3 separate regions of the Homo sapiens genome follow, and regions 2 and 3 are each reported to be linked to region 1. Evidence: microRNA targets listed by miRTarBase, many of them from high-throughput screens and not tested one by one. Region 1 holds a microRNA gene; each other region holds the end of a gene's coding sequence.

Evidence for each region. Region 1 holds the annotated microRNA hsa-miR-6072 (UCCUCAUCACACUGCACCUUAG, at 6,030-6,051, shown strand). A microRNA usually pairs through its seed, bases 2 to 8, with sites in the 3' UTR of a target mRNA and lowers its output. Matches are read on the target gene's strand: a 7mer-m8 pairs with bases 2 to 8, a 7mer-A1 pairs with bases 2 to 7 and ends in A, and an 8mer does both.
Region 2: miRTarBase lists NCR3LG1 as a target of hsa-miR-6072. Seed matches in the 3' UTR shown: 7mer-m8 at 3,019-3,025.
Region 3: miRTarBase lists DAAM1 as a target of hsa-miR-6072. Seed matches in the 3' UTR shown: 8mer at 8,607-8,614.

The regions. Positions count from the first base shown.
Region 1 is chr10:2,070,925-2,082,081 of GRCh38, reverse strand. It overlaps MIR6072 (microRNA 6072), which reads left to right and starts at 5,993; the gene lies at 5,993-6,063. RefSeq lists an enhancer at 10,788-11,157.
Region 2 is chr11:17,369,126-17,380,282 of GRCh38, reverse strand. It overlaps NCR3LG1 (natural killer cell cytotoxicity receptor 3 ligand 1), which reads right to left. Exons shown (of 5, transcript NM_001202439.3): 5 at 2,942-8,277. The coding sequence ends at 7,771. Among named protein-coding and RNA genes, the nearest start is that of KCNJ11, 14 kb to the left of the region's middle. RefSeq lists enhancers at 899-2,098, 3,405-3,943 and a silencer at 8,365-8,565.
Region 3 is chr14:59,368,224-59,379,380 of GRCh38, reverse strand. DAAM1 (dishevelled associated activator of morphogenesis 1) reads right to left here. Exons shown (of 25, transcript NM_001270520.2): 25 at 7,978-10,731. The coding sequence ends at 10,522. Among named protein-coding and RNA genes, the nearest start is that of GPR135, 92 kb to the left of the region's middle.

The DNA of each region.
Region 1 (11,157 bases):
TTTACAAATACATAAAAACTGATGTTATTTACTCATTGTGCTACACATCCACACACACACACACACACACGATGGCTTATGAAACCACTTGTAAATCCCCGCAAAAAGTTCCTGTGTTTCAAAATAGAAAAATTATAATGCACTTGCAATTTTCCTGTTATGAATTGACTAATGCAGCATTCAAATAATTTTCACTTTTTGTTCTATGAATATTTAGGTCTCTGCATCAGCTATTTTGCTCTGTTCCCCAGGCCAGGCTCAGGCATACACCCTTGTCCAGCTGCCTGTCATCTGCATGAGTGTTCTAGGATGACCTGCTCTGAGCTGATCCAGCTGGGCTGCCTGTGGTCTCTCCTCCTGCGGCCAACTAACCAGAAGGAAGGGTTATCAGCAGAAGCAAGGCCCACAAGACAGCAAATGAAACCTGCAAGACAGCAAGCAGAAGAGAACGACCTCCAGGGGCCAGGCGGGGAAGTGACACAGAGACACTCAACCATTCTGCTGTCAAAGCAAGTTCAAGCCTGATTCACAGGTGAGAAAATAGAATCCCCCTTGGGACTGGAGGAGATGCTCCCATTGAAAAGGGTTCATCGATTATGGCTGTCAATGCGATTGATCCACTGTCACCCACCTCTGGCTTTAACTATTCAGTTTCTGTGTTGTAATCATATGCTTCCAAGACCTTCAAAAGTCCCATTTAATTACCATATCATGATGAAGCTTCAAGATCCTACCATCACCATCAGCCACCTCTCTGGGGGACAGAACAAGCTGATCTTAGCAGTGGGTGATCTCTGTGTTGTAGTCACCTTGAACGTACAATGGTGAGAGAGAATAACCACAATAAGGACCTCCACAGAAAGAAACACTTGCAAGGATGGAGCACAGAAGCACAGAGCAGTCACTGGTCTTTAGTAATTCTGAAATCCACAGGGCAAATGCTGGCACCTCCAGGAGAGAGCATTGCACTTTGATTTGGGCCTCATTGACCCCCAGAGTCATTCCTCAGTCCACTGGTCTGCATGGCTCCTGGGTTCACACTCTGAGATGTCCTTTCTTCTCCATCACCTTATGTGGCATCTGGATTTCTGAAGAAAGGAGCCATTTCAGTGGCTGGGTAGATTTCCCAGTCTGCCCCTACCCCAAGATAATCTGGAAGCCTGCAGATCTCTTTGTGTTTGGGGTAATTTCAGTGCCTTTTAGTCCATGCTGTTGTCCCTAGAGCCTGTGCAACTCCCATGAAAATCCTGCAGACTTCTTTGTATTTGATTCCATTTCAATCCACCTGAAAAAAGACAAACTCATAATTAATTTCTAGACAGACTTCTCTCTCTAGTCTTATCTGTGCTCCTTTGGCTATGTCAGGCTTCTGGGGACTTCTGTTTGAAGATTTTTTGTGTGTAGCTGAAAGTGTCTATTAGGCACAGCCTCAAACCTGACAGAGCCCCTCACCAAGGGTCATGCTGCCACACCACTGATTTTGTCCGTGCCCCCAGGCTATAGATTATTTTGAGAGTCTTTTGCTGGCTGGAAAGAGATGAAAGATCAGAAATGGCTTTATTTTCCATTCCCACAAGACCAGGCTCTCTCTATCCCTTCTAAATTCTTGTACAGACTGGGCAATGTTTTATTTCACTCATCTTTTTTACTTTTGAAAGCTTCCAATAAACAGCCGAGATCAGGTAGCTGGCACTTTCAATATTTTGGCTGGAGATCCCGTTGGTCACATCTGAAAGTTCATCAGGTATTTTGCAGGTGAGAGAATTGTGATCATTTCTCAGTCACCTCACGTGGTTCACATTTTTTTGGCCTCCAGGGACAATTTTCTCAGTATTTTTCCTCAACAATTTTCAATGATTTGTGCACAATTTTCTCACATCCCCATCTCCAGTCCAAAGGCCAGTGCTACACAGAAAAGGGTCTTGTTATGTCAGATCTAGGTTCTTTAGACCCAACCTCTGTATCCCTTTACTAAGGTCATGAGCCACAAGCCCTCACTAGCATAAACAATAAACATCCATGTTGTCTCACAAGTGTAGGAGTTGGGCTTTGTGACTCTGTCCCTCTGGGCTGGGAACAGCTGATATTAAAGGTCATGTTTTACTTGTGAGCTTCAAAGAGCTTGAGACTTTGGACTCTGACTTCAGGTAATCAATCACCAAGAAATGCCACAGTGTCCCAGGTGAGCCGTGTCCACCTCCTCCCCCTCCTGCCTTTGCAACAAAGCAGCTTTGACTTTGCAGTCAGGGTGTTCAGGACTCCAGATGTTCCCTCTAACTATAGACCTCTCTCTGTTGTGTTTTCGTTGTTCACAAACATTCAATAGCCTTTGGTGAAACAGTACGTTTTCTGAAGCAGTAAGCACATGGTAGAAATGAGTGAGTGATTAGGTACTAGCGGTAGTTAATTGTTAATGAATGAGGTATGCTGACTGACAGCTGGTGGAAATGGATGATCACCAGATGAATTTGGGGACCTGGAGTAACTCTGATTATGGACTGAACTGTGAACTACAAAAATTCATCTTGAAGTCTTAACCCCTGTACTTCATAATGGGCCTGTATTTGGAGGTAGGGTCTTTATTTAAAAAAATAATTATGTTAAAATGAGGTCATATGGGTGGGCCCTAATCCAATAGGACTTGTATTCTTGCAATAAAATGAGATTAGGACACAGACACACACAGAGGAAAGACCTCATGAAGACACAGAAGGAAGGGGGCCATGCGTAAGCCATGGAGAGAGGCCTCAGGAGGAACCAACTGTGCCCGAACCTCGACCCTGGACGTCCAGCCTCCAGAGCTGTGAGGACACACATTTCTGTTGTTGAAGGCTTATGGTAGGCTCATACAGCAACCCTAGAAAACTAATACACCCATGATGCTTAAGAAACATGAAGACAGAATATATAGCTTGTCAGAGAAAATTTATGGCTAAAGTATTAAGCATATTTACATATTAAAATATGTAAATAAGTTACATGTGTGAACAGTTTACATGTTAAAATAAAATAGTATGGGCATGGTGGCTCATGCATGTAATCCCAGCACTTTGGGAGGCCAAGGCAGGAGGACTGCTCGAGGCCAGGAGTTTCAGACCAGCCTGGGCAACACAGCAAGACCCTGTCTGTACTAAATAAATAAATAAATAATAGACTTTGTAATCTCAGCTGTGTTGTTGATTTTATAGAAATATCTGATGCTGATTAAATTACACAGTTTAACTATGTATAGTATAATGGCTTCAATTGGACTTCAATAATATAGAAATAAAATGCATTTTATTTTGTATCGAAAACTAGTGATATAAAAACATATTTATAAATTTTACATTTTTGCCTTTGAAACACACATTATGAAATAATCACATCCTTATATAATATGCTTTCTTATGTTATAAATCTTCCTATTCCTTTATTTTCAAATTTTTCACTCATATCATTTTTAGATTAAGTCTTGTTCACAACGTGTTCTATATTTTTCTTTTAATCATTTCTTTTGTGTTTTCATTATTCTTTCCCTTGCTCTGAGTTGTAAAATTTCTCCATAAATGTTTTCTACTTTTTCAGTGTTTCTACTGGCTGTTTTCATTTATGAGAAAAACATAATTAAACATGATTCAAGAAGTATGTAATAATTCAGACCAGCATCCTAACCCATCACGAGACTTTCAACAAAATTTTAGCTTTTATTCTCCTATACCCATGACTCTATTAAACTTATGCAGACTTTTAGCTCTAAGTCATTGCTAATTTGTAATAAAATATTTGTTACAAAATGTAGGACTACATTCTTAATACTTTCTTTAGATTTAAATTATCATTTTCAATCTTTTCTAAATCTGGCACCAGAAGATACTCTTATCATTCGCATGGACATTCTTTATCCTGTCACTTTAGCCCCACTCTTCCACTTATATTCCCGATTCAGATTTTAATTTGACAGATTTCAGACGCTTATTTCACAAGTATCTACTCTTCTGAAAGTGTTTCTTATTCCACACTTGTTTGAAAATGTCCTTTGTCCTGTGAAAACTATGAAGAACACTTTAACCTATTCTAAAATTCTAAGAGTAGAATTCTGCAATCTCATAGTGGTACAAAAATGAGTTTACTCCCCGTAGCAATAACTATGTTCAATAATAATAAACACAAAATGTATATAGGACCTTATGTTTACAAGTCATTGAACTAAAATCTTTACACTGATTCAACCTTCACAAGACTGTGGGGTTGATGTTGTTGTTATCAAAGTTAGTGTGTCTGATGCTAATGTGGTCATTTCCTGGCAGACAATTTATTTTCTCTATTTGGAAACTTATTGAATTCTTCATTTTTTAACTTAAGATCTTTACTAGCACGTGTGTATCTTTTTACTTTTTGAATCTCCCCTAGACTCAGTGATCCCTTTCGAGATGGAAAACTGAGTGTATTTTTATTTCAGGAGAATGTTCTTTTGTGACGTCTTTGATCACTCCCTCTTTATTATTCCTTTCTCATCTGGACTTCCTATGGAGAGTTGACAAGTGCTGGTTCTATTTTCTTTCATGGCTCGTAGGTTTTCTCTCATAATATTCATTTTATTAAAAAATTTTCTCTATGTCATAGACTAGTTTCCCAGCACAAACTCCTGAGTCACCGCATAAAGTCTCACTAGGGTCCTGTGTGAGTCACAGTATTCAGAGACTTGATATAGTTACTGTCGTCTTTGTTTCCAGTTATTCATGTTTCAGAGTTCTCCATTTTTTCAAAGTAGCTTCTTATAGTTTTAACGGTACCAATCCTTTTTATGCAATGGAAAATATGCATTCAAGGTTCTTCTTTATGGTTCATGTCAGTGGAGGAGACAAAATCGTTTGATCTCTCTCTCTCTAGATCTTCATTGACTTAAACATCCACTGGCTTTTCCCATGTGCCGGGACTCACAACAGAGACAGAGCAGCTGAGTCTGTGCCATGAGCAGGTGCGGGCCCATTCAACTGTGTGTGTCCCTCACTTGAGGGGCACTTGGGCAGAGGTTGGCCTGCGATCATAACCAGGAAGAGAGGATTCTTCTTTGGGTTGGATGAGTAATAAACGAACCTGTAGGCCTGCTCTTTTGATGAAATAGACGGCCACTATGTTCACCATTTTCTCCTTGATATGGCAAGTGACTGAAGTCAGCTCTCTCTAGGAAATACAGTGGGGGCACCTGCGGGGCTGGCTATGCAGTGACTGCGGTACAGAAGACAGTGGCCCAGGCTGCAAAGCAAGCCGAGTCCCGGGAAGATCAGGGTGTCCCTGCTGCTCAGACTGTTGCGGGTGTCGTTTTCATTCCGGGACAATGGGGGCAGTGGAGACTGTGCTATGCGTCTCACTGCTCTTGACAACACCATCTCCAAAGCTCCGGGCACCTGGGAAGGTGGAAGTCCTATGTCATTGCTGGGGTGCCCTGGGGCCTGGCACATGGAGCTGGACATCCTAGAAGTCTGTCCCTCATACTGGATGCCGAGGGTTTTCCCTGCACAATGTTTTCCGCAGACTGTGTTCTCTCTCATTAGTGCAAGGAGCCCTGAGTGGAGGGTTTTGGGGGATATTTGGTGGAGGACAGAAGCAATAAAGAAGGTGCAAAAGGAACACTCATTTCTTCCTCTTCACAATTTTTCCAATGATTCATCTTCTCCATTTGAACATCCTTGACAAAGCCGGAAGCACGGATTGTCATGAGCCAAGAACGTTTTCACTGATCATTGTTTCTTCAGGCCGGGTCATAGACACACAAGCCCCCTCCAAAGTAGCCCTTAGCTGTTCCTGCTTCCCGAGTTCTAAACTCGAACTCCTGGGGTTGCCTTCAAGGCCCGAGGCCAGGTGCCCTTGTCAGCCCGTTCAGAGTCCTGAGTCCTGGACCCACTAGGGAGATGCACAGGACTGGGCACAATTTCGGCAGGGCACAGAGGAAAACGTTCCCCTTGGGTAATTTCAAGGAAGAAGTTCAGCGGCAGGAATTGGGGGTGCAGGGTGGGGGCTGGTGCAGGGATGGGCTTTGCTACTGCTCCTCATCACACTGCACCTTAGCTGCTGCCTGGAAGTCACTTACTAACGAGAGGATGGTTCCATTCAGATATGCTTGCTGCTGCTGAAATGAACATATTTCATCTTTGGTTTGCATTACATAGAGTAGTTCTTAAATTATAGCACTAAACAAGGTGCTTCAACTTATTTCCATGAGTATTGAAATAGACGCTAAACATGGCAACTCATTGTGCATAATGTACGAACCTATTTTTATTTAATGTGGCAGTTCGTTAATACCACAGCTCCTGTAACTGCTCAGCACACAACCTAGAATTTCTCAAGCTTCAAGAACAATGGCGAGAATGGTACCAAGGGTCTGTTTGCCCTCCTTTAAAACAGGATTCTCTATGTTTTATCCTGATCAACTTTCATACTTTCTCTGCAGAATTATATAGTGCAAGACATTTGGAGATATCAGAAACCTAGGAGAAAATGTGCTTGAAACATAGATAGTAATATGATCAAGCTAGAAATTAGGAGTCGTGGTCTGCTGTATGTTGAGAAGCATGAGGCAAGACGCATGAAGCTGGCAGAAACAGCATGATTTCAAAATGTATGCTAAATACTAATTTGTGTCATGGATATTTTATCTCTTCTTTCTCTCCCTCCCGTTAATCTTTTCTCACAGCATGCTCAGGCAGAAGAAGATAATAATTAAGCCCATCTGCATTGCCTTTCACTGTCTTCAGGAATTTATGAAATGAGACAGAAGAATAGGCATCCAAAAAGCTCCATTCTGAACGTGGTATGATATTTACATCTTGTGAGTTTAAATAAAATTCACACTGCTGACCCTACTGCCCCAGTGCAGAGCTGTTAGTTTGCGATATCACACTCAGGTTGCACTGTGTCCAGGTGGCAGGATGGAGCTGGATGGGCGGTTCTGCTCAATGGAGCTGGATGGGCAATTCTGCTCAATGGAGCTGGATGGGCAATTCTGCTCAATGGAGCTGGATGGGCGATTCTGCTCAATGGAGCTGGATGGGCGATTCTGCTCAATGGAGCTGGATGGGCGATTCTGCTCAGTTGCAGGAATGTAACTCCCAGAGCTGGTGGTGCCCACTTTTATACAACAGAAAGAGGTACAGTTTCTATCTATCTCAGGGTATTGCCAGAGAGGCTGTGAAGATAAGAGGTTAGGAACTGTGAAAGTTTGGGTATCTCCATGGTATGTATGATCATTATGATTTGAATAATTCTAACCCTCTGAAATTAAAGACACCCAATACTAGGCATGGTGGCTGACGCCTATAATCCCAGAACTTTGAGAAGTCAACCAGGAAGGATTACTTAAGGCCAAGAGGTTGAGACCAGCCTGGGCAACATAGCAGGACCCTGTCTCTGCAAAACAAAACAAACAAACAAAAAATCATACACTTTTTAAAAATCACATTTTATGCAAGCTGCATATATCTTCCTTGATAAGTTATTTCTGTATAACAATTCAGTGTCAGGAAGGGGAATATCACACTCTGGGGACTGTTGTGGGGTGGAGGGAGGGGGGAGGGATAGCAATGGGAGATATACCTAATGCTAGATGATGAGTTAGTGGGTGCAGCACACCAGCATGGCACATGTATACATATGTAACTAACCTGCACAATGTGCACATGTACCCTAAAACTTAAAGTATATTAAAAAAAGACAAAAAAAAAAAACAATTCAGTGTCTACAAATGGAAATTTGCTTAGTGACATAAGTCTTACTAAATTGTCTTTGTCAGTGAAATAAAGGGAAAATATTAGGCGATGGACACACTGACCAAGGTTAGGCTTAGCTTTGAAATGTGAGCAAGGACAACATAAACAGAAAACATTCATTAAGATTCAGGATATAGGATACCTGATACAGGAAACCCAAGTTCAGAATACAGGATTGGATTGTTGTTGCCATGATAAGTTTTGTTTGTTTGTTTGTTTGTTTGTTTGTTTTCACAGTCCCTACTGGCCTTAGGCAGTAAACACACAACAGGTCAAAAACAACAATTTACCATATGTATTTAATTCTATTGTTTCCCAAATTTGACTGGAATAAACATAAAGAACACCAAAGGGATGCAATGATTGTGGTTTTAAGAGTAGGAATATGGGCTCTGGTAGATGAGCTATTTTGGCAAATTTGTATAAGATAGAAAATAGATAAGGTTTATCTAATAGATACATCACAGAAGAAAGGACTCGTCTCAAACACAAATTCAAAGTGAGAGGAAGATATCCTGGCAAAGCTCCCAATTTATTGTTTGGCATTTAGAGAGGGCAGATGTGGGTATGGAGTCAAGGTGGTTAATTAATTAATTAATTAATGGCTATTTGCAGATGACCTGTAAGGTCCTCATGCAATTTCTTTCCTCAAGTTCAAGCCCAAGTTCCTGCACAAAGACAAATGATATCCCAAATCTTCCAGTTGATCTGCTGTGCTGGGCGATGTTTCCAGGGGGGAATGCAGCTGAGTGTGGCACCTGAGGGAGTCTCAACCAATTCAACAGCCCACTGTGCAGCCACGTTGAACTGAAGCTTAGCTATTCACTTCCCAGCCCATCTGCAAAGCGCTTCCCCAACACTGCCCTATAGATTATAAACGTCTGATTTACCAGACTGTGGGTAGAAAAGGAAAATAAATACATCACCATTTTATATTAACCAAAAAAATGTGATTTTGACGTACAAATACACATCAATGAACATACATGTGAAGCACTATGAAAGAAAGTCATGAATAGGAACAATCACAACAGAAGCTGCTGGCCATCAGTACAGACAGTGGAGAACTGAAGAGCACAAAATATACAAAATTAGCACATTTAATTTTCATTAAACACCTTATAGAAAACTTGAGGGAAGCCAATTACAATACAAGAATAGGCTGTTCTAATAAAGGAACTATGCAGAGATTTTAAAAATTAGTCTTGTCATTTGAAGTATAATCATAAATTAGCCAGGCGTGGTGGCACACGCTTGTAGTCCCAGCTAATCAGGAGGCTGAAGCAGTAGAATCGCTTGAACCTGGGGGGCGGAGGTTGCAGTGAGCCAAGATCACGACACTGCACTCCAGCCTGGGTGACAGAGCGAAGCTCCATCTCAAAAAAACAAAACAAAACAAGTCATTTGAAATATAATTATTACAATGTAAAAAAACCAATAGGATATTTATAGTACAAATCTAAAAACACTCAGATAATTAGAATACAACAACAAATCTAGAAAACAGGTGAGCAAGACAATTCATTCAGGCAAAGCCAATGATTCAAGACTGGTAATGTACACTTTATAGGAGGGGCAGAAAGAAAGAGTGGAGACCATGCCACGGAGGATAAACTTTTATTTCAAATAAAAGCTGCACTGTTACAAGCTGAAGAAGGATGACTTTTCATGCAGAAGGGTACACGGAGCAACACAACCAGAATGGATGAGCTACCATGGAACGCAGTGATAGAAGGATGCTCTCAAGAGCTGCCCAGGAAGAAATGAAGAGCGGGTTCCCTTCAAAAGCCTCAGAAGTAGACCAGCCTTGACCACTTTCGTTCTTAAAGGCAATGGAGTGTCATATCAATTTCAAAGGAAGGTACTTTTTAAGATCAAATCCCATATCAAACCAAATTATTGCTCAATAATAAACACAGTTTCAGACAAAGAAAAAGTGTCTTTCTAACCATCTTTCAAGAAAAAATAAATTCAGGGTGGTCCTTGGCAGAACTGAAACTCAATCTAATCAGGATGAAGATGTGAGGTTTGGGGCAGGGGAGGGGAACATTCTTCCGGTGAGTGTGCCAACAATACTCAAACGCCAGTTACAAGTGCAGGTGAAAACCACTTCTATAAAATAAAAACATGGCACAAAAGTGAGAGATTAAACGTGGGCAATTGGATCCAATAAAAGAGTGTAATGAACACAAATATTTTTAACTTTGACAAGAAATTTTCTTTCATTTTAGTGTCACGAGAATTTGTTACGTATGTGACAAATAACATTCAGATAACTATAATACTGTTAATATTGCTTATTCAATTTTCGTGTTTAGAATCATCATACACATACATTGAATGGTTGGAACTTGCCTGTATGCCGCCATTTTGGGTAACAAAAGCAATGATGTGATTAAGTCTAACACGAAGCATAGAGAGGGAAATTAAAAAGTTGATTATGAAAGAGCATTTATGATTAAAGAGGTAACAAAGATAAAACTAAAAATAAGAAAATAACAAAAACATTTGGGAAAGAGAAAGTAAGACAGAGAAAAAATGATACATTGATCTTCTAGTCACAGCTGACTAAACAATCACGGTTGTGTAACAATGATGAAAACAATCACCATTTAAGGGATTGCTCCCGGGGGTGAGGAAATCAGCCTGAGGACTGAAAGGGAAAGACACAGCCCACGGCTTTCAATTTTCATTTAGAATCCAATTTTATTTAAAGAAGTAATTATGGCCAGGTGCAGCGGCTCATATCTGTAATCCCAGGGCTTTGGGAGGCTGAGGTGGGCGCATCAAGAGGTCAGGAGATCGAGACCATCCTGGCTAACATGGAGAAACCCCGTCTCTACTAAAAATACAAAAAAATTAGCCGGGCATGGTGGCGGGTGCCTGTAGTCCCAGCTACTCAGGAAGCTGAGGCAGGAGAATGGCATGAACCCGGGAGGTGGAGCTTTCAGTGAACCGAGATCGCGCCACTGCACTCCAGCGTGGGCGACAGAGCGAGACTCCATCTCAAAAAAAAAAAAAAAAAAAAAAAAAAGCAATTACGAAAATAAGAAAACAACCCCCTGCCCACAGAGCCATAACCATGTGATTCTTCACATTCAAACTTCCTCTAGTATCTTCTATATCTAGAAAGTTTCCAAGACTTAAAAGGAGGGTTGATTTAAAAAAATAGTATCTGGGAACTTCTCTGAAAATCGTAATAAAAATGCACAGCCCTCCACTCTTCCTAACAATCAACAGCGGTCATATCAGGAAAAGTGATTTGAGGGCAGTGAACCCACTTCCCAGAGAAACAAACCATGACTCGTAAAAGGAATTTTTAAAAAGTGTGCTTTAAAGTCTTTGGAAACATCCTACAGGTATATAGCAACTGAAAAGTGTCTCCTCAAGAAAGTCTACCAGGTCT
Region 2 (11,157 bases), not on the chromosome of region 1:
TGTGGGAGGAAACCAGAGTACCTGATGAAAACCCATGCAGAACATGCAAACTCCACACAGACAGTGGCTCAGGTTGGGAACTGAATTTTTTTTCATCAATGTGATAACAAAATGACATCAAATAAAATGATGTTATTCTAGCACCTAATATACACTCTGAGAAAGTCTTGGCCACCCCAGATCCCCGAGATCAGCAGCTGGAGATCTCGGGATATAGTTCAGTATTCCAGCATCAGCTCCCAACACGGAGCTCCTGCCTTGCTCAGTCAGTGGCAGAAGCAGTCTGGGGAGAGCATGGCACCAGCTGGAACACTGATGCAGATCCCTGAGATCTGTAGCTGGAGCCCATCAGCTGACTGCACTCCTCACACAGGCTCTCTCTCGAAGGGGGTCTCAGACACATCTCTGTGGCTACCACACTTCTTTTGGTCAAAGCTCAGCTTCCTGAGGAGTTGTAGCACTTAGCTTATGCTGTGTAACAAAGCCAGTATAAAACAGTGGCTTTAAAAAACATTTTAAATATTAATGTAATATTTAAAATGTTTTACATATTAAAAGTATTTTCCAAGTATTTGAGAGTTGGCTCTGCCAGCTCTGCTGATCTCAGATTTGCTCACATGGAGTCAGGTGGCTGTCATCTAATCTAGCCTGGCCTCCACTGGAGCAACAAGGATGTGGTAGCCAGCATCTCTCATCCTCCAGCAGGCTAGTCTCGACCTGTTCTTCTCCCAGCACCATTAGAAGCACACGAGGAAGCAAATGAAGACACACAAGACCTCTTGGGGCTTACACTTGGAACTGGCACGCCTTCACTGCTGTCTTCTTAAGTTGGCTGAAAGAGGTCACACAGTTAGAGGCACTACAAAGTTACACAGCAATGGACATGGATTCAGGGAAGGGTGTAGGATTGGAGTCATCTTTGCAAACAACTAAAGGATCCAGCTGATCATAAAGGGTTTGTTTTCTTTTTCCATAAGCATCATTGCTGATGTTGGGGTTATCAGCAATAAACTGATAGTTTTACAGTCTCACCAATGCACCACAATGTAGCAGTCTCTCATTGCCCAAGGTATCACCTGAAGTTCTTTGTCTCATAACCAAGAAAATTAAGGAGCATGGACCCCAAAGGTGAGGTTGGAGCAAAAATTTAAAAAGTGAAAAAAGAAAGCTCCCCACTGCCAAGAGGGGGCCCAAAAGAGTGTCGCCATTTCACAGTTGAATACAGAGGCTTTTGTAAGAAATTGATGAGTGCTGGGCATCTCATTTGCATAAAGCATGAATTTCTGGTAGTTCTACCCTATCCTCCCAGTGTGCATGCAGGCCCTTAGCTTGAGTTACTCCATATGGCTTTGTTCCCCTTACTGCGCATGTCTCAGGGAATGGAATTTTCCATTGTGGGCATCTCTGGGCAAGTCTCCTGTGTAGTCTTTCTTACCTAGGCAGCTGTGGACATGTCTAAGGCAAGCCTCCCTGTACAAGTTCTCTTCTCTGTGCCTGCAGTTTGATTTTTCAAGCTGTTCTTTTGTTTGGAAGAATTTTACCGAGGACCCACCCTAACTGCCTGTCTGACTGGTTTCTTCCTTCCTCCTTTCTCATTCCCTGCTTCAGGAGTGGAGACCCCAACTGCTGTTGGGGAAAGTGGACGATGACCACTCCTGGCTGCTTCCTGCTGGAAGGGGGCGTCGTTGGGGTTACAGCAGTTAGGGCTCCTCCTGAGATTGGTCTAAGGGTCCCCAGAAGAATGGCGTGTCTATGTGTGGTTCTATCTGCAGCACCATTTGGAGTTTAATAGCCTCTAAGTGAGAGGAAACAATTTGAGTTACAGTATTGAATATACAAAGTCCAAACATTAGTACAAAACACACGAGCAAAAGGGGGCCTAATAAAGGAGCTAACCAGTTCCACAAAGAAGACTGGAATCCATTTAAGAGGGATTGTAGCCAACTGGGACTGGAGCCCGCATTCTCTCTTAATCTGTCAATGTTCTAATTTGATCTTTAAGCACCTGTACATTCTCTTCTACTTGACTAGAGGTATTGATCTAGAAGTGACATGCTTCTTTTTAAAAGTGCACAGGTACCCCCTACTTTGGCCATAAGGATATCTAGGGCCTGTCTATTTTGCATAACTACTGAGGCTAAAGAGTTTATGAATTGTTGTTGTGCTTCTATGGCTCCTACTGTTAGCTTCTACCCTTGTGGCATCATAATAGAAATATTAAGTACTGATTTTTCAAGGAGAGGAATACCAGCAAACCAGAATAGGCCTCTGACTATAGAATCCCCTATCCATGGTTTTTCTGAGATAGGATTGTCATGTGCAGGTCCTACCCAATCTTCTCTTTCAGTTAAGTCTCCATATGAGGGCATGGAAATGATAGACCTCTTTGTTCAGCGCATCTGAGATAGCACACTCACTAGAAAAGACGCTAGGCTAGGGATGTCCCCAGATGATGCTGCCATATCAGTGGAATTTAAAGATAACAGGTCAGGAACCACTGCCACGATAGTGCAGGTTCCCTTCCAGTGCCTAGGGAGGATTAAGTGTAGCCAGGAGCCACAAAGGAAATAAAGCCCTGTCCCCTGAAGGGCCAGTTCTAAGTTGTAGCTTGTGAGAGACACAGGCAGATCTTTCTCATATCTTAGAAGCTTCCCCCTCCTGCATGTAATAGGAACATCTTTGGGATGGGGATATCTATACTCAGGATAGTCACTCACGATGCCATTTGGAATTTTACATGCTAAATGAGAAAGGTCCACCTGATAAATTGAGTTTTGTTTGTTTGTTTGTTTTTTGAGATGGAGACTTACTCTGTTGCCCAGGCTAGAGTGCAGTGGCACAATCTTGGCTTTCTGCAACTTCTGCTTCCCGGGTTCACGCAATTCTCCTGCCTCAGCCTCCCGAGTAGCTGGGACTACAGGCATGCACCACCACGCCTGGCTTTTTTTTTTTTTTTTTTTGTATTATTAGTACAGACGGGGTTTCACCATATTGTCCAGGCTAGTCTTGAACTCCTGACCTCATCATCTACCTGCCTCAGCCTCCCAAAGTGCTGGGATTACAGTCGTAAGCCACCACACCTGGCCGACAAATGGAGTTTCAAAAGACCAGGGACACGATATGCCCTGGCCAATATCTCAGATAATGCCCCCTTGTGACAGGGGCTGTCAGTCCAGAAGTCTCCTGTTCTGTTCACCCACAGATTTGTAGGCCACTACTACTAAGCATCATACAGGGGGTCTGGAATCCCATGAGGGTGCATGTCTGGGAAGGCCTATGTGTTGTTTTTTACATTATAGTGCCATGTGTCAGGGTGGTTACCCAGAGCCTGCCATTCCCAGCAGGACTTTCAACCAGGAGGAGACGCTGAATTCTGAAAGCCTCCCCTCCATATGGCTTCCAATTTTCTTAGATCATCCTTCTTATGTCTTTTTCTCCAAACTTCCGAGCTTTCAGCAATTACAAGTATGGTGTTATAATATTTGAGATCTCCCAGGTATGGTCCTTTTCCTCTGCTTTTAAAACAGGAGGAGGCATTTGCTATTACCCGGCCAACTTTTCCTAGCCTGAGGGTGTGAGGCTTATCTTTGGGGAAAGTGTTTTCTGGCACCAGGGAGGAAATGCTTTCCTGGGAGGAGTTAGTTACTCAGTTGAAAGTGTTCCCATACCATGTTCCATTTATGCCTGACAAGTCTTTAATGGCTAAAGGTAAAGCTAACAAAGGGAATGCTAAGACAGTAAATACCAAGTCATCAAGAGGTTCCTTAGTGTTACTGAACTGAGCAAACCGCTCAGGACAGACCCAGCAATTTGTCTTGTATAAATGGGACATGGCTGACACAGTAGAGGCTAAAGGGTGTGACGTATTACCAAACCCAATAAAAAGTCCTAGCAGACTCGGCCCTACTGGGTAGAGGCTTCTTTAAATGAGGGACCATTGTTGTTTTGGAAGTACTTAGGGAGCCCAAAGTGAGGAATTATTTAACTAATTAGTATTCTCACCACCTCAGAGGCCTTTTCTGTTGGGCATGGGAATGCCTCTACCCAGTTAATGAAGGTATGCACCCACACCAAAAGACATTGAATGCCATTTATTTTGGGCATATGGGTGAAGTCTATCTGCCAGTCCTCCCCTGAGTAACTTCCCATCCTTTGATTGTGGTGGGGAAGAAGTCATCTGTTAAAGGGATTATTTTTAAGAGGGTTTCACGAGTATTAACAACCTATTTGACCATTTTTAGTAGATTTTCTCCTGAGAACAATCTTTGGATGCACTGATGTCTTATGCTTTCCTAAGTGAAAGGCTCAGTGGAGGATTTTAAGAATCTTCCATTGGCTGGAGGCTGGCAAGCGTACTTTGCAATCTTCTGATTGTAACCATCCTGAGGGTTGAAAAGTATACCTCGAGAGGTGGCCCATTCTATCTCTGTAGGGGAATACTGAGGCTTTATTTCCCTTATGTAGCCCTCCCAAATCAGAGGGGCCTCAAGTGTTTTGGGACCTTGGGGCCTTCTTACTGCTGACTTAGCTCTTTGGTCTGCTAGCCTGTTTCCTTTCGCTATTTCATCTACCCGCTTCTGATGCCCTCTGCAATGTCTGACCACTAATTCTCATGGGAGGAACACTGAGGATAATAGCCTGTTGATGTCTTGATGGTATTTAATGCAAGACCCATTAGCGGTGAGGAAGTGCCTTTCCTTTCAGATGGCAGCATGGGCAAGGAGAACTAGAAAGGTACACTTGGAGTCAGTATAAATGTTAGCTGTCTTTCCTTTGCTTAGTTCAAGTGCTCTTGTGAGAGGGATCAGCTCAACTGATTGAGTGTGTGTGCCTGGTGAGAGAGGCACATTTTCAATGTTATTTAGGGTGACTACTGCATATCCCACTTTTCAGACTCCCTGTCCTACAAAAGAGCTCCCATCCATAAAGTGGGTCCAGTCTGGATTTTCTAGGGGAATTTCTTTGAGATCCTCCCTAGCGGCATAGGTTGTACTACAGTCTGTTCACAATTATGTTCAGTTTCTCCAGTTTCCTCTGGGAGGAAAGTGTCTGGGATCAGGCAAGGTCAGGTTTTTAACTGGACTGCAGATTCCTCTAGCAGCAAAGTCTGATACTTGAGGAGGCAGCTGTCTGTTAGCCAGAGACTCGCTTTAGAGGACAGCAAGCCTGCCACATTATTTATGTGAGGCATAAACAGGTTATTCCCCAGGGTTAACTTGGTGGCCTCTGGGACTAGCAGGGCCACTACTGTAACTGCTCAGAGGCAAGCTGGCCATCCTTTAGCCTCCAAGTCAAGCTCTCTACTTAAGTAACCTACTGGCTGTTGAGCTGGGCCTTGAACTTGAATTAAAACTCCCAGGGTCATTCCTTTCCTTTATGATACATAAAGATTAAAGGACTTCCCTACAGAAAGACTGGGGGCTGGTGCTTTAAGCAAGGCTTGTTTTAACTGATTAATGGCCTTTTGACCTTCAGGTTCCCAGGTCAGGAAGTGAGTTTTAGCCACTTGAATTTCTTTTATAAGGTGATATAAAGGGCAACCTATTTTATCATACCTGGGTATCTATAACCTACAAAAACCTGTAATGCCCAAGCATCCCTCAGCTGCTTGAGGGTTCTGGGGAGAGGAAGGGAGGAAATGGGATTAATCCTCTCCTCGCCTAGTGCTCTTGTTCCCTTCTGACAAGACCAGACCTAGGTACTTTACCAAAGTCTGATAGAGCTGAGCCTTAGATTTTGAAGCCTTATATCCCTTTCCAGCTAGGAAATTAAGGAGAGCCTCAGTGCCGTCTCAAGAAACTTCCTCAGTTGGGGCACAGAGGAGAATGTCATCTACATATTGTAAAACTTTAACCTGAGAATGGAAGAATTCGAAGAGATCTCTTGACAATACTTGCCCAAATAGGTGGGGGCTATCTCTAAATCCCTGAGGCAGTACAGTCCAGGTTAACTGGGTGGTTTGATTGGAGGGGTCTTCAAAGGTAAACAAGTATTGGGAGTCAGGGTATAAAGGTATACAGAAAAAGGCATCCTTTAGGCCCAGAACTGTGAACCATTTAGTTCCCTTGGATATTTGAGTTAGCAAAGTATAGGGACTGGGATCTACTGGATGAATCGTAATCACAGCCTCATGAATAAGGCAGAGGTCCTGAACTAGTCTCCCTTCCCCATTGGATTTTTGCACCCCTAATATTGGGGTGTTTCAAGGGCTACTGCAAGGCCTAAGGAGGCCTTGTGCCTTTAGGTTATCAATGCTGGCGTCTAGCCCTTTTCTACTTTCTGGCTTCAGAGGGTATTGTCTCTGGTTAGGAAAAAAAGTGGGATCCTTGAGGTGGATCCAGACTGGTATAGTGGTTATAGTCCGGCCACTTCTTCCCTGAGTTGCCCAAACCTCTGGGTTAATACTGGTTTCCACTAAGGGGAGGCGGAGTTTGTCCTGGAGCCATAAGGATGGTGGCCCCCATACGTGCTGGAATATCTCTATCTAATAAAGGAGTGGGACTTTCAGGCATGACTAAAAAGGCCTGTGTAAACAGTAGGTCCCTCTGACTGCAACTAATAGGTTGAGAAAAATATCAAGTTAAAGTCTTTCCTGAGATGCCCATCATGGTTGTGCTATGGGAGGAACGAAGGCCTGAATTGGAGAGGAAAACAGAAGCCTGGCTCCAGTGTCCAGAAAGAAGTCTACCTTCCTCCCTTCGAACTCCAGAATCACCTGGTGCTCCCGGGTAGTAACAGCAGTCTGAGCCACTGGAGCCAGGGAGTTGAGCCCCAGGACCCATCAGTCCTGCTGGACCATTTGTGAGACTGGCTCTGGACTCAGTGACCTATGCTTCCCAGGACAGTCTGCCTTCCAGTGGTCCCCATTGTATACTGGACAGGGTTGAGGTGGCTTCTTCTTGCTGCCTGGGCAGTCCCTTTTGAAGTGCCCTAGTTTGCCACATTGGTAGCAACTAGCAGGTGTACCTTGGGGATACTGGGTTTTATACAAAGTGGCCACCAGAGTCTCTGCCTTTTTCTTGTGTTTCCTCTCCTTCCCCTGGGCCTCCTCCTGGTCCCTATTATAAAAGACCGAGGTGGCTACCTTCAGGAGGTTTTGTAAGGTGCTATCTAATCCCATGGCCTGTTTCTCTAGCTTCCTTCTGATATCAGGGGCTGTCTGAGTAATAAACTTGTCTTTCAAAATTAGCTGTCCCTCAATTGAATTATTTATGTGAGGTATAAACATACCTAACAGGAGACAAGGAAGTGTGTTTCACTACAGCCTCTCTCAGCCTTTCCAAAAAGGCTGAGGGATTTTCATCTAGTTTTTGATCTATCATGGAGAGTTTGGGGTAATTAAGAGGCTTGGCTCTGGTCCTCTGTAGGCCCTCTAATAAGCACATTTGAAAATGTTTTCTTTGCCACTCATCTAAGGTACCACTGGGGTCCGAATTATGTTGTTCAAGGGGCACTGCCTCGCTTCCTATTGGGTATGTGAATGCTGGTTGTTTCTCACCTTCTTTCCTTATTGAGTGGCTATAGAAGACATGTTGTTCATCTCTGAATTTTTCTGCTGCCTGCAGGGCTACCTGTTTCTCTGTAGTAGTTAAGAGTTTAAGAGCAACATAACATCACCCCAAGTAAGGTCAAACACCTGAGTTAGGTTTTGGAAAGCCTCTATATATCTATCAGGTCATCAGAGAACTTGCCCAGGTCCCCTCTTATTTGCCCAAGGTCCTGTAATGAAAAGGGAACTTGGACCCTAGTGGCACCAGGTCCATCAGGCATTTACTGTAGGGGTAACAGTAAAGTTGGGGGTTGGGAGGATAGAACTGGAGTTGTTGATGTTGTGGCTGGAGGAGGTTCCCAGATAGGGGAGACAGGAAGGATTGGGGCATCCGGAACTGCATCCGAGTGTTCCCTAGGGGTTTGTTTCTCAGACTTTGTGGAATTATCATCTATGGACTTGCCTGATGTAACTGTTAGGAGAGCAGGGTCAATTCTACAACACTGACAAAGATCTGGGTTGTCTCGCAAGGCAAAGAAGGCTTGCACATAAGGAACCTCGGACCATTTGCCCTCCTGTCTGCAGAAAACATCTAGTTGTTGAATAGTATTAATATTAACACTTCCCTCAGGAGGCCAAGCCTCCCCATCCTGCAGCTGGTAAGACGGCCATGCCCGAGTGCAAAAGAATATGAGGTGCTCTTTCTTCAGAGTCTGAGTGTCAAAGGAGTTCCAGTGTTTCAGAATGCACTTGAGAGGAGTATAGGCTGAAGATGATTTGTTACATATCTAGAAAAAGAGGAGAGAAAAGGCATCCCTTAGTCTCCTTTGTCCTTCTGGAGTGATCGACAGCAGAGAGAAAAATGGAAGGGGCGTCCCCCTTCTCCTCTTCCCTCCCATTTCCTCAGGTTCCTGGTGACCATTATAGGTGCTGCCCATGGATCAAAGCATGACCTTCACCCATGAATCCGGAGGAGCTAGCTTGTGCTCACCTGCACAAGGTCCTAGCTCTCTGCCCTGCTGGTTTCCTAGACCTACTTGGCCCATAAGGCTCCTGAGATTCCCTAGAACCATGGGAGAGATTGTGCAGTAGTTGGATTGGGGCAAGACCCTTTAAGGAAGGGAACATCTTAACTCTATCCTTACATCCTCTTACTACCACCCTGGCAAAGTTATGAATTCCTAGAGAATGAGACTGATTGATTTCTAAACACAAGATCCCTTTCTCACTTAGATGCCAGTGTAGCTGTGTACAGAACAGATGCCTCAAAAGAATGTAAAAATTGAATGGCTGTTCTCCCTCCAATGGGGATAACACTGAGGCTAAAATATGTCTTCCCAGGGTAGCTTCTTCCTGGCTGTTGAAAGAGGAGTTTTTATGCTTACAAATAGGGCATGGGGCCTGATCACTGAAAGAGGGACATAAGAGAGAAAGGAATCAGGGAACTAGAGGTTTTGGGCAAAGGGCTGACAAGGCTTCTCACAGAGAAAAATCCCATCCCACTAGGTAGCACTATAGGGTTTGAAATGTTAGGAAAAAACTCTGACTACAAATTCTTTCCAAGCAGAGGTCAGAAAGGGAGGTTTGGGGCTTAATAGGCTGTCCCCATAATATGCTGTCCAGTAGAAAAAAAACTAGTTTGTCTCATAGAGGGAATGCTTAAATTCATTGGGCAATGCTGAGCTCTTACATGAAGGAAAAACAACCTGATGGAGAAAAGGGTATTCACTTGGGGTGAAACATCCCCCTATAGAGTGCCATGAATGTCTATCACTGGGGGACAAAAAGGCCCTAAGTGAAAATTTAGGCTGAAATCTTGAAGTCCCCCTGTCTCAAGGAAATCACAAAAACAACAATTATTTGAGTTACATTCCTCGTTACTAAGGCACTTGCTGACTTTGCTTAACAGGATTATCTCCCCAGGCTATAAAGACACCCACAACATTGCATACAAAGAAGGAATAGGAGACATAGTAGCTGCGAAAAGCAAGGAAGAAAATGCAATAGAAAAGTCTGGAAGTCCTGGTGCCAACATTCTGACGGGCTGTCGGGGGCTGGAGTTAGTCCAGGGACCTTCAGGTAACACTGAGGAGTAGCCTCAAACAGAAACCTTCAGTTGCCCCAGGACCTCCTTCTAGCCCATGTGACAGCTAAGTCCTCTGTGAAAGGAAACTGGATTAGAACAGAGCCAACATTCCCAACACCTGAGGGTGAAGGGGGACTGACAAAGTCCTCTCCAGCAAGCCTGTATCTTAAGTCTCATAAGGTTGGCAGCCGCTCTAAAAGCTTTTAACTGGCCCAGTGTTTTGTTCAGTCTTCAGGAAAAAATCTGAGGACAAGAAGCCTCTGAAATGAAAGTAAAGAGTTTGGAGGTCCGCTCCTACTCACCCTTCCAATGTTTCCTGGCCAATGCACCAAAATGTTAGTCTCGTCAATGCACCACAATGTAGCAGTCTCTCATTGCCCAAGGTATCACCTGAAGTTCTTTGTCTCATGACCAAGAAAATTAAGGAGCGCGGACCCCAAAGATGAAGTTGAAGTGAAAGTTTAATAAGCAAAAGAAGAAAGCACTCCACTGCAGAGAGGGGGCCCAAAAGAGGGTTGCCATTTCACAGCTGAATACAAAGGCATAAGGCACACATTTCTGGTAGCTCCACCCCATCCTCGTAGTGTGCATGCAAGCCCTTAGCTTGAGTTACTCCATGTGGCTTTGTTCCCCTTACTGTGCATGTGTCAGGGGATGGAATTTTCTATTGTGAGCATGTCTAGGCAAGTCTCCTGTGTAGCCTTGTTTTAATGTATGTGGCTGTGGGCATGTTTTAGGCAAGCCCCCCTGTACAAGTTCCCTTATCTGCAGTTTGATTTTTCAGGCTGTTCTTTTGTTTGAAGGAATTTGACTGAGGGCCCACCCTAACTGCCTGCCTGACTAGTTTCTTCCTTCCTCCTCTCTCAATAGCACCTGAATATCAGAACCAGAGAAAGGCAAGAAATATGACAACAGTCACAAATACCACAAGAAACATTTGAAAACCACTTTTTATCCAGTTTTCTCATGGCCTAGATCCAACAGGAATAAGTCCCGTGAATCTAAATGGCCAACTTTAGATAAAGGGCCATTTTTCTTAATTGACTGATTATTCCACTTCTCCTAAATTATTTATAATGAGATGTACTGGCTGTTGTGCAGATTTTGCCTTGACAGGCCCATAAATAATTGAGGGCCCTTTTATTATCTAAAACTATTTTAACCAACACATTTACATAGGTCTCTTGGGCCTCTAAAGCTTGAGCTGTTTTATTTACTATTTGGGCCATAGTCAGGGATAAAAATGTTTAGAAACATGTTTTAGTTTAGAAATACCTAGTGAGGGTTAGAAATTCTTAGTCAAACTAGTGAGATCTGGTGGTCAGTTATTGATCAGATAAAATATGAGGAATTCCCCTCTCTAAGCCATAGTTTCTAAATGTGTGAGAAAAACAAGCAGTCCACACATAGTTCAGGGCCTGGTCTGAACACTAAAGTCTGGTTCATTCACAGAGATATAATACTTGTTTAGTATGGAGAAAGAGAGGGAGGCTTTACAACACATCACCCCAGAGTCACAAACCACCATACAGAGGTCAGATGGTATGTGACAGCTAGGTCCTCTGTGATAGGAAACTGGATT
Region 3 (11,157 bases), not on the chromosome of region 1:
TATACGTTAGTATATCAACTGACATAATTGGAACATGGATGGTATGATTAGATAAATGTATCAATATAAATTTATGAAGTTGATACATGTACTGAAGTTGTATAAGAGCATATCTTTATTCTTAGGAAATGTACACTGGAGTATTTAGGAATTGAGAGCCGTGATGTATGTAACTTACTCTCAGATGGTTCAGAAAAAAATTATGTGTACACGTACACACAAAGGAAGAGCAAGAGAACAAACGATGAAGTAAATGAATACAAGTTTAAAAATCAGTTTTATCTATAGAACAAAAAAGTGTATCTGGAAAAGTAAAAGGTGTTCGTTGTGCTATTTTTATTTTTGAAATGTTTTGTGAGTTTGAAATTATAAATAAAAAGGTTTTTTTTTTTAAATTGTGTATTCAAACTTCTACATACCCCTGAACTTTGTACAACATCCCTGATGTGATAGATGGTCACCCCATCTTGGGCATTCAGTCTAGAGATGTGGACGTCTCTAAGGAAAGGGTACTCAGTATCTTATTAGGCAGCCTGTTCAATCGCTAATTTTAGGAGTTTGAAATTTCTCTATGGCTTAAAAAAATGAAATCAATTGGTTGGTGACTTTTACCCATTGATTGTCACCCTGGCTTCTGGTGAAATACAGAATACGTTTTCTTTCTTTTTAAATATTTGAGAACAGCTGCTATATTTTTGTAATAATTTATTTTGCAGGCTAAAAGTTTCTTGTCAGTAGATGCTTCTGAGTCTGTCTATAAACCTGCTCACCAGGATGCAGTTTCATTTGTCAGCGCTGCTCTTAGAACACGGTATCCATGAGAACACAACACTCCAGCTGTGCTCACGCCAGTGAGGACAGCAGTGGGCCCATCCATTTAGTTTGATTTGTTCCTTCCTCCTCTTCCAACCACACTCTTCCTAGGTCACCACAACGGCCTCTACAGGGTAAAGCCATGTTAATGTTATACATTGATTTTATGACAAAATCAAGGCATTGTGGTTTTAGTGCAGCCCAGATGAGTCCCCGAGGATCAGCGTTACCACAGCTACCTGGTAAAAGGAAACCCTGGAATGAGCCTCATTACTGCTGTAATATAATGTGCTCTAAGCAATTGCCCTTCCACCTTTCCCCTTCCCAAACAGCCAGGGCAAGAAGCCCGAGTTCTTGGCTGTAACTGATAAACAGTGTGATGAGAACAGTTTGTTTAATTCTCGTTAATGAGTTGGCTGCAGTAAATTCCCAGCAACTAAGGACTGAGAACCTCAGAGGCAGGGCTACAGCATCCTTCAATGGGAAGTTTTAGGGCTGCTCTGTCCAGCTTCTAAAGTGTGAAGCCAAGATGTGTGGGAGACTGACCGAGGGTCACAGCTCATGTCTGATAGCAATACAGACAACTCTGGAACTTGGGTCCTAGTGTGTTGCTTAGCTGTTGGTGCAAGACAACAGAATAGGCAGATGGGAATTTGGGAGCCACCTTTTGTGGTGTGTACTTTAATGGCTGTAGATAGTTTCTGGATTGGTCAAGGTCTCCTTTACACAGTCCAGTGGGGGAGAAGTCAATGCCAATTGTCCTACAAGCATTACATGACAGAGGATTCTCTCCCTATTGCATTAATTCTTTAGCAGTGAGCCCGGAAAGATAGTAGGGCCCGCAAGACCCCCTCCTAGCAGTGCCTCTAGCAGACATTGGAAGCCAGCTTTTAGTGTGAACTCACCAGCCATAAAAATGTCAGGCCACTGAACAGCTGCGGCTCTTCAGGGTCAAATAGCTCACATTCAAGGCAGAAAGAGAGGACTGTTTTCTGTAAAAGGCATTTTAAGAGAATTCCTAATAATGAGGTCTTCTGATGGGAGAGTAACTAATGAAGGTGGTTTGAGGGAAGGAAGAAAGGGAGGTTGGGAAGGAAGGAAGTTGAGAAGGAGGGAGCAAAGTCTTTTCCTGTGAGCCTTGTAATGACAGTCAGCTTGCAAAAATTATCTTAAACTTGAAATCCAAAAGGCTTATAATCTGAACTGCTTGAGAGTGACTAGCTCACTAGTGACAAGCCCTCCTTATTATTTCTTCCCTCTGGATCCTCAAAAGTTAAGATATGAATATTAAGGTCCTATTAGTCTAAGAGTTAATCAGAGTGTTTTAGGGATGGGGCTGATGTCTTGAATGGTGGCAGTCTGCATGGAAGTCCAAGGAAGTATTGTGAAAAGCCATCCCATAGAGCTGTTTTATCGAGATATATCCAGATGTGAATAAACTGGAAAAGCAGAAAGCATGGAAAGTTACCAGAGGGAGTTTACCTGAGGCAGCCGGTATGTGCAAAGGAGTAGGATGACTTGGCCTGATTGGGTGGGAAGGTTTCTTGGCTATGTATATTGGGACTTTTCTTTCTTAAGTAGACTTTATATTTTAGAGCAGTTTCAGGGTCATAGCAAAACTGAACAGATGGTACAGAGATTTCCCACATACCTCCCGCCCCCATACATGTGCAGCCTCCCCTATTATCAACATCCCCAACCACAGCTGTCTATTTGTTACAATTGATGGACCGACACCAACACCTCATTATCACCCAGAGTTCATAGTTTACATCAGGGTTCACTCTTGGTGTTATATATTTTATGGGTTTGGACAAATGTAAGATGACATGTAGAGAGTATTTTCACTGCCCTGAAAGTCCTCTGTGCTCTTCATACTTATCTCTTCCTCCTCCTGTCCCCTGGTAACCACTAATATTTTCCCTGCCTCCCTAGTTTTACCTTTTCCAGAGTGGAATCATACACTATGCAGCCTTTCCATATTGGCTTCTTTCACTTGGTAAGATGCATTTAAGACTCCCATGTCTTTTCACGGCTTGATAGGTCATTTCTTTTTAGCACTCAATAATATTCCATTGTCTAGATGTACCACAATTTATCAGTTCACCTACTGAAAGACATTTTGGTTGCTTCCAAGTTTTGGCAATTATTAATAAAGCTGCTATAAACATCTATGTGCACATGTTTGTGTTGACATGAATTTTCAACCCATTTGAATAAATTGCTGGATTGTATAGTAAGAGTATGTTTAGTTTGATAAGAAACTTCCAAACTGTCTTTTAAAGTAGCTGTACCATTATGCATTCTTACTAGTAATGAATGAGAGTTCTTGTGGCTGCATATCCTCTCTGGCATTTGGTGTTGTCAGTGTAGTGGGTTTTGGCCCCTCTAATGAGTGTGTAGTGATATCTTGTTGTTGTTTTAATTTGCCTTTCCTTGATGACACATAATGTGGAGCATTTTTTCATATGCTTATTTGCCATCTGTATATCTTCTTTGGTGAGGAGGCTGTTCAGATCTTTGGCCCATTTTAAAAAATTGAGTTGTGTTCTCATTGGGTTTCAAGAGTCTTTTGTATATTTTGGACGACAGTCCTTTACCTGGTATGTCTTTAGCAAATATTTTTTTAACAGTCTGTGGCTTGTTTTATCATTTTCTTGACTGTGTCTTTTGCAGGCCATAAAAGTTTAATGAAGTCCAGCTTATCAATTCTTTCATGGATTGTGCATTTGGCGTTGCATCTAAAAAGTCACTGTCAAACACAGATGACACTGCCAATGTCATCTAAATTTTCAATTTTCTCTTATCTCCAGGAGTTTTGTCATTTTGTTTAAGTCTGTGATCCATTTTGAGTTAATTTTTTGTAAAGAATGTGAGGTCTTTGTCTAGCTTTATTGTGTTTGCATATGGATGTTCAGTTGGTCCAGTATTATTTTTTGAAAAGACTATATTTGCTCCAGTCTTACCTTTGCTCCTTTTTAAAAAAATCAATTAATTATATTTATGTGGTTCTATTTGTGGGTTATATTATTAGTCTGTTTTTTCACCACTACCACACTGTCTTGATCACTGTAGTTTTATACTATGTCTTGAAGTAGGGTAGAATCAGTTTCCCAACTTTGTTCTTTTCCTTCGATATTGTGTTGGCTTTTCTGTATCTTTTGCCTATTTATATAAACTTTAGAATCAGTTTGTCAATAAAAACAAAGTAACTTGCTGGGATTTTATTGGAATTGCATTGAATCTATAGATTAAGTTGAAAAGATCTTGACAATATCATATCTTCCTATCCATGAATATGAACTATCTCACCATTTACTTGGCTCTTCCTTGATTTCTCCCATTAGAGGTTTGTTGTTTTCCTCATATAGATCTTGTACGTATTTTGTTAGATTTATACCTAAGTATTTCATTTTGGTGGTGTGCTCATATGAATGGTATTGTATGTTTAATTTTCAATTCTACTTTTTCTTTGCTGGTAAATAGGAAAACAATAGACTTTTATGTATTAACTTTGTATCCGGCAAACTGATTTTCCTAAGCTGCTGGTAGTCACTCCTTTCCTCCCCCGTTTTTTTTGTTTTTGTTTTTTTTTTTTGGGACAGAGTCTCGCTCTGTCGCCCAGGCTGGAGTGCAGTGGCACGATCTCGGCTCACTGCACGCTCCGCCTCCCAGGTTCACGCCATTCTCCTGCCTCAGCCTCCCCAGTAGCTGGGACTACAGGCTCCCGCCACCACACCCGGCTAATTTTTTTGTATTTTTAGTAGAGACGGGGTTTTACCGTGTTAGCCAGGATGGTCTCAATCTCCTGACCTCGTGATCCGCCTGTCTTGGCCTCCCAAAGTGCTAGGATTACAGGCTCCTCCCCTGTTTTTGTCTTCCCGTGTCCTTGCTCAGCATCACAGTCATCTCTTCAGACACCTCCTCCCATCCTGGAAGAGTCAGGGTAGCTCTCAACTTAATTTAACTTAGGAAAGGTTTTCTACGCTGGAAGTGATGGTGAGGATATTAACAAGAAATGCTCATGATTACATGAGGGATTGCAGATTCCTTTGCCCAGAAACGTCCTCACATGACCATAATGGGTGCGAATGAGATGGGATAATGATACTGAAATCAGTACCATTAAACCATTTCCTTTCTTCCTTCTCCCAGCAAAAGAGCAAGAGAATCATAAAAAACAAATGCTTTATTCAAACAAAATAGAAAAAAATCATACGTAGGAAACTTTTTCCCACGAAAAACGAAAACATATTAAGGTTTGATACAAATAAGGATCTCCTTTGTCTGAAAACCCTGGGGTGCAGTCCTGTGCTCATTTGTTTGTTTGATACCATGGAAACATGCAGTTGATTGCAGTAGATAAAAGCATGTTAGGGAAGAGACCAAAGGGCAGGTCTGACATTTTCCACAGGATTCAGATAAAAAATAATTCTGATTGGTATTTGCTATGGAAAACACAAAATCCTTATAAACAAGAAACTTGTTCCTCCATGGGCCCCAAATTTTCTCAAACATAAATAATTCATAGGCAGGACACGCTGGCCCATGCTTGTAATTCCAGCACTTTGGGAGGCCAAGGTTGGAGGATTGCTTGAAGCCAGGAGTCTGAGAACAGCCTGGGCAATAATATAGTGAGGCACTGTCTCTGAAAACATTTTAAAAATAAAAATAATAAGAAAAAAGAATTCAGATTTTAAGTCATCTCTTAATTATAGGCTCAACAGGTTTTTAGACTTCAGTTATTATCAATAGAGGCAACAGGGATATAGATACTTAAAACAGTATATAGACCACACAGAAAATAAGCACATAACTCAACACAGTGATGGTTTATAAACACCCCATGTGAGAAGCCCTAGACCCCTGAATTTAATTCTCTCTATATAGTCTAGTGGTTCTCAAAGATATTGTTTATGGAACTAAATGGTATCAAGTAGCTGTTAAGCCTTGGAAGTTGCTAAATTTAGGTTTTCCACTTTATAGGAAACAGCTGATGTTATTAAAAAACAAAAACAGTCACAGAAAGTTTTACCTTCCAGAACTCAGCCTTTTGAACACAGTAATGCATCACATAACGACGTTTTAATCAACCATGAACTGCATATATGGTGGTGGTCTCATAAAATTACAATGGAGCTGAAAAATTCCCCATCACCTAGTGACACTGTAGTGCATTGCATTACTCATGTGTTTGAGGTGATGCTGGCATAAAACAAGCTATTGAGCTGCCCGTTTTATAAAACTATAGCACATCCACATGAACAGTACGTTAATACTTGACAATGATATGTGTTACTAGTTTATTTACTACAAATGTGTTATTTTGAAGTATACTCATTTTTTTTTTAAAGTTAACTGTAAAACAACCTCAGGCAGGTCCTTCAGGAGGTACTCCAGAAGGCATTGTTATCACAGATGACAGCTCCATGCGGGTTATTGCTCCTGAAGCCTTCCAGTGGGACAAGATGCGTAGTGAAGACAGTCTCATTGATGATCCTGACCCCATGTAGGCATAGGCTAATATGTCTTAGTTTTTAACAAAAAAAGTTTAAAAAGTTAAAGTTAAAAACCAAAAAAAGCTAATAGAGTAAGGATGTGAAGAAAATACCTTTGTACAGCTGTGTTTTAAACAGTTATTATAAATCAAAACACTAAATGTTAATAAAGTAAAAGTTATAGTAAGCTAAGTTTTATTACATAATTTAAAAAATAAATTTAGTCTAGCATAGATGTACAATGTTGATAAAGCCCACAGTAGTGTATGTCCTAGGCCTTCACATTCACTCACCACTCACTGACTAACCTGGAGCAACTTCCAGTTCTGCAAGCTCCATTCATGGTAAGTGCCCCATATAGATGCACCATCTTCAATGTTTTATATGGTATTTTTACTGTATCTTTTCTATAGATATGTTTAGATACACAAATATCATTGTTAAAATTGCCTACACTATTCAGTGCAGTAACATGCTGTGCAGTTTGTAGCCTAGGAGCAATAGGCTTTGTATACCATATAGCCTAGGTGTGTAGTAGGCTATGCTATCTACATTTGTGTAAGTATACTCTATGATGTATGCACAACAATGAAATCAGCTTTTGGCACAATTTCTCAGAATGTGTCCTTGTTAAATGACACATGACTGTAATTGTGTCGAAAGCACAGTATTTTAATAAAGGTTATCCCTTGACTAACAAAAAAAATGCACATTAGGTTATAGAAAAGGGGCAAAGTTCTGGATGGATCACATAACTTCACCCCTCTGTCAGAAGCACATTTCCTTCAGTGATCATTGTTTTGGGGAAACTGAAGACAATGAAGCATATGATCTGAAAATTTCACATTCTCCCCCCTTTCTATTAATACACCAAGGTCAACTGAGGATCTAGGTGGTTCTGTACATAATTCCATACCCAAATATACAAATAGGCAGTGGCTGAGTTTGTGGGTGGGAATATAACATTTGTCTAACATGCAGAAGGGTCTCTCCTATCTGAGTGTCAGCTCCACAGAACGTTGTTACTATGAAGCCATGCAGTGAGGTGATAAAAAACAAGATGGTCAGCTATTACAAGAACATCATGAGTTCATTCCAAAGATGATAAGAATTAGTGTTTGGACTGCTTGGGTATTTTATCAGTCACTGGGGCAGTTTGTTTCCAACGTGAACTTAAATTGAGCTAAGGGTGGCTAGGCAGCAAATGTGATGTAGGACAAAGGGAAAGCTTCAACTTTCAGAGGATACTGATAAACAAATTTCTTGATCTGTATGGGTGCCATTTCCCATACTGACCCATATCAAGTTAATTTTTAATAAGAAAAACATGCCTCAAAACAAAAAGGCTTTGATTCTAGAGACTAGAGATTATTTTCTCTACTCTAGTTGAATAATTTCACCAGTAGCCCTACCATACATGAGTTATAACAAGAAATTGTATAACTCATACATAAACCAAGTATAGAAAGAGGTGGCATATGATAACCTGAACATACTGAATGCTGCCATAATAGAAAACTATATTCTTCTAGGTCCAGTAAGTACAAGTTTAAAAACAGGTATATATTTCCGATTCAGTGAACAATTTGCAAAATTGAAATTCAATGGTGGAAACTGCAAAGCAGTTTGATGACACTGTTTTAATAATTCATAGAAAGCATATATGTACACCCAATGAATTCATCTCTTTATTGCATATTGCTATTTTTAAAAAAACATGTACAGTCTCATAACACATACTTTTTTTTTCTCAGTACTATCTAACAACAGTCTTGCACCTAAAGACTAAGTGGTTCCAACTACTAAGCTAATAAGATATAAGACATATAATTAAGTTTACAAATTATGCATTTTCTTTTTGGCATTAATTTAAAAAAACAAAAAAAGTTTAAAATACACACCCAAGAGAGAAAAGTGGCTACTTACACCAGCACCAATCTAAAAAGTAGGTTTTTTTTTTGTTTTTTTTTTTTCTTTTCAACAATGGCACATGGAATTACCTGCACACAGTTTTCAGGGAAAGAAACCAAAAATGGAAATGGCAAAGGAGGCCCACCAGGATGGCCATATCAAAGGAGGATGATTAAAAGGGGCAAGAGGGACAGCTACACAAACTTGCTCCTTTATGTGACTTTCCCTCCACCTGTCTATTCCTTAAACTGTAAGACAAAGCCATTTTCAAAATACAGTTCCAAAACTGAGCCAGACCAAATTTATCCTGCTACAAATAGAAAAGAATATACATAGAGGCACTTTAGTTAAGGAACAGACAAAACCATCATTATATTCCAATCTTCCTCATCTCCAAGCCTTTTTGAGCCAAGTCTCTATCTGCACCTTTAACATGGTGTTATTGCAGACCTGGGTTAACTCGGGATTGGGGGAGTGCAACCTCTGCTTTGTATTTATGACTGTTTTATTTGCTAGTCATTTATTTCCATATAGTGTGTAGAAAGTCACTAAATTTGCAATGAGGAAAAGATGTAAAACCACAGCTCTTGACAACTCTTAGAGCACTATTTCACAGCTTTCACATAGCACAGATAACTCGCCATCTGTGCTAAGCATTATAGTTTATACAAATTATTTTTAAATAGTATGATTCCTGTACAGTGCACACATTGGTATTCTATTCATCCCTTAATATCCCCATTAGAATATAAGCTCTTTGGGGGCAGGGACTCTGTCTTGCTTACCATTGTAGCCCTACTATGCCTGGTACATAGTAGGAACTTAATAAATATTTGTTAATTGACTGAAAAACTCAATTTAGTGAGTAAATAATGTTCTAGTGCAACAGGACAAACTACTCTCTCCACAGGAAACCCAACCACAACAGGATCAATAGAAAGAAAAGAGAAAACGTTAGCCCCCAACTACAAATAAATAAAGCAAAGCCAAAAAAAAAAAAAAAAAAAAAAAAAAGTAAAAAAGTAACAGTCCTCTTTATATATCACATAATTTAAGGATATTAAGAGTTGGTAGGTTAATGGTAAGCATCTATATTTTATTTTCTAATGTTCATTGATTTTATTCATGTCTCCCTGAGAGCTTTATTTTTTTGGACTGAAATTTTACAGGTAGCTTTACTGACACACAATTTTAAAATGACAACATATAAACAGCAATCACTTCAAATATACTTAGAGATAAATAGATCTGGGCATCTCTGCTGATGTTGACATTTTGTGCATTCTTTATGTATCCTTTAGTCCAGACCTATATTTACAGAAAATGCAGCTTGTCCTACAAAACAGAAAATAGAAACTATAACAAAAAGGCACCCCATTAATTTTTTTTTTTTTTTTTTTTTTTTAGTAATCTTTATCCCTTCAGAGAATTCTTCCTTTAAGTCTTGGGTGAGATATTTTATTATTTTTAAGGTTTATATATCTATATTGTTAGAACAAGCATACTCTGGCAATGTTGTTCTTTAAAAAAAGCATGGATTGCATTTATATAGTGTTTTTTTCCAAAAATCTGAAGAAATTATCAAGAGCACTTGGCAGAGATAACTTGATGAAATCAGGGGAAAAAATTGATGTCCAACTTTTAAATATACAAAAACTTGATTGACATTCTACATAATTCAAATTGTGTGCAAGATGTTCTCAATAAACATTTACAGACTGTATCCCCACACCAATGTCAGAAATTCAAAGCTGGTCCTATTACTGATGTGATACATCAACATCACAATGTCAGCTATCAAAAATCATTTTAAATCTATGTTTTTCCAACAACTCCAGTTCCATCAATGAAAATAATTTTAAAGGATATCAAGCTTGGAAACCATAAAATATTTTGCAAGCTTTTTTTGTTTGTTTGTTTGTTTCTTCTGTTTTGCCTTTGAATCTAGGGAATGTCTCTTATCTCTTTCAGGAGATAGTATTGTGCTTCTGAACAGTCATGGCGTTCGGGGAAAGAAAATGAGCCACACTCAATGTGAATGCATACACGAAAGGTTTTGGAGCACATACATTAACATAAATCTTTTTAACCATACGTATAGGTCTCCAGACAACACTCAGACATCTATATACATTTTTTAATATATACACACATACATTTACATACACACGTTCACACATTCACTCACAGATGAAGGAAAAAATTGCCACTGTTTGGATTGCAAGGCAGTGTAATGAAACGTTCTAGTCACTTTAGAGGGCTGCTAATGAGCTTTCTAAAAAAAAGTATTCATGGAAAATTAGAAATTAAGTTTTGTGATTGGTCTCTCTCTGCTGCTGTCAGTCATCTGGTTGGTAATACGTTTGCGATTCCGTTTCAATTTAGAAAGGTCTTTGTCAAACACTTCTCCTGAGCGTAAAGCTGAAACAAGGTCATCAAACTCTCCGCTTTCTTCACTATTCTCTTTAGCTTTTCTCATTTTACGTTCCCTTTCACGTTGTTCTTTGAGCTGCAAATAGAAAGAAATAACCTCTTTGAGACATGTCAAAATGTTGCATTTTGTTTGCAGTAGAGGTCAATTCCTTGAAATATGGTAATGCTCCAGACACCAAGCTATGCTCATCCTATAACCCCCTTTGGATATCACAAGAAAGGGGGAATTGGAACATGGGGTCTCCATTGCAGGAGCAATGGACAACAAAAAACAACCACTCCCTTGTGGTTAGACCCTCACCACCTAGATTCTAGGTAAACTGCATGATATTCTAGTTAAAATAAGAGCAATTGAGGCAATTTGTGTTTCTGCTAATGAAAATTAAAAAAAAGGTATCACTATTACATAGACCCCAAATAACTAAAGCAAATGGTCATCAGGCCATTTTCCTTATATCAAAGGCTTAGCTTGTGTCTACTGTGGAAGCCTGAAACCTGATAC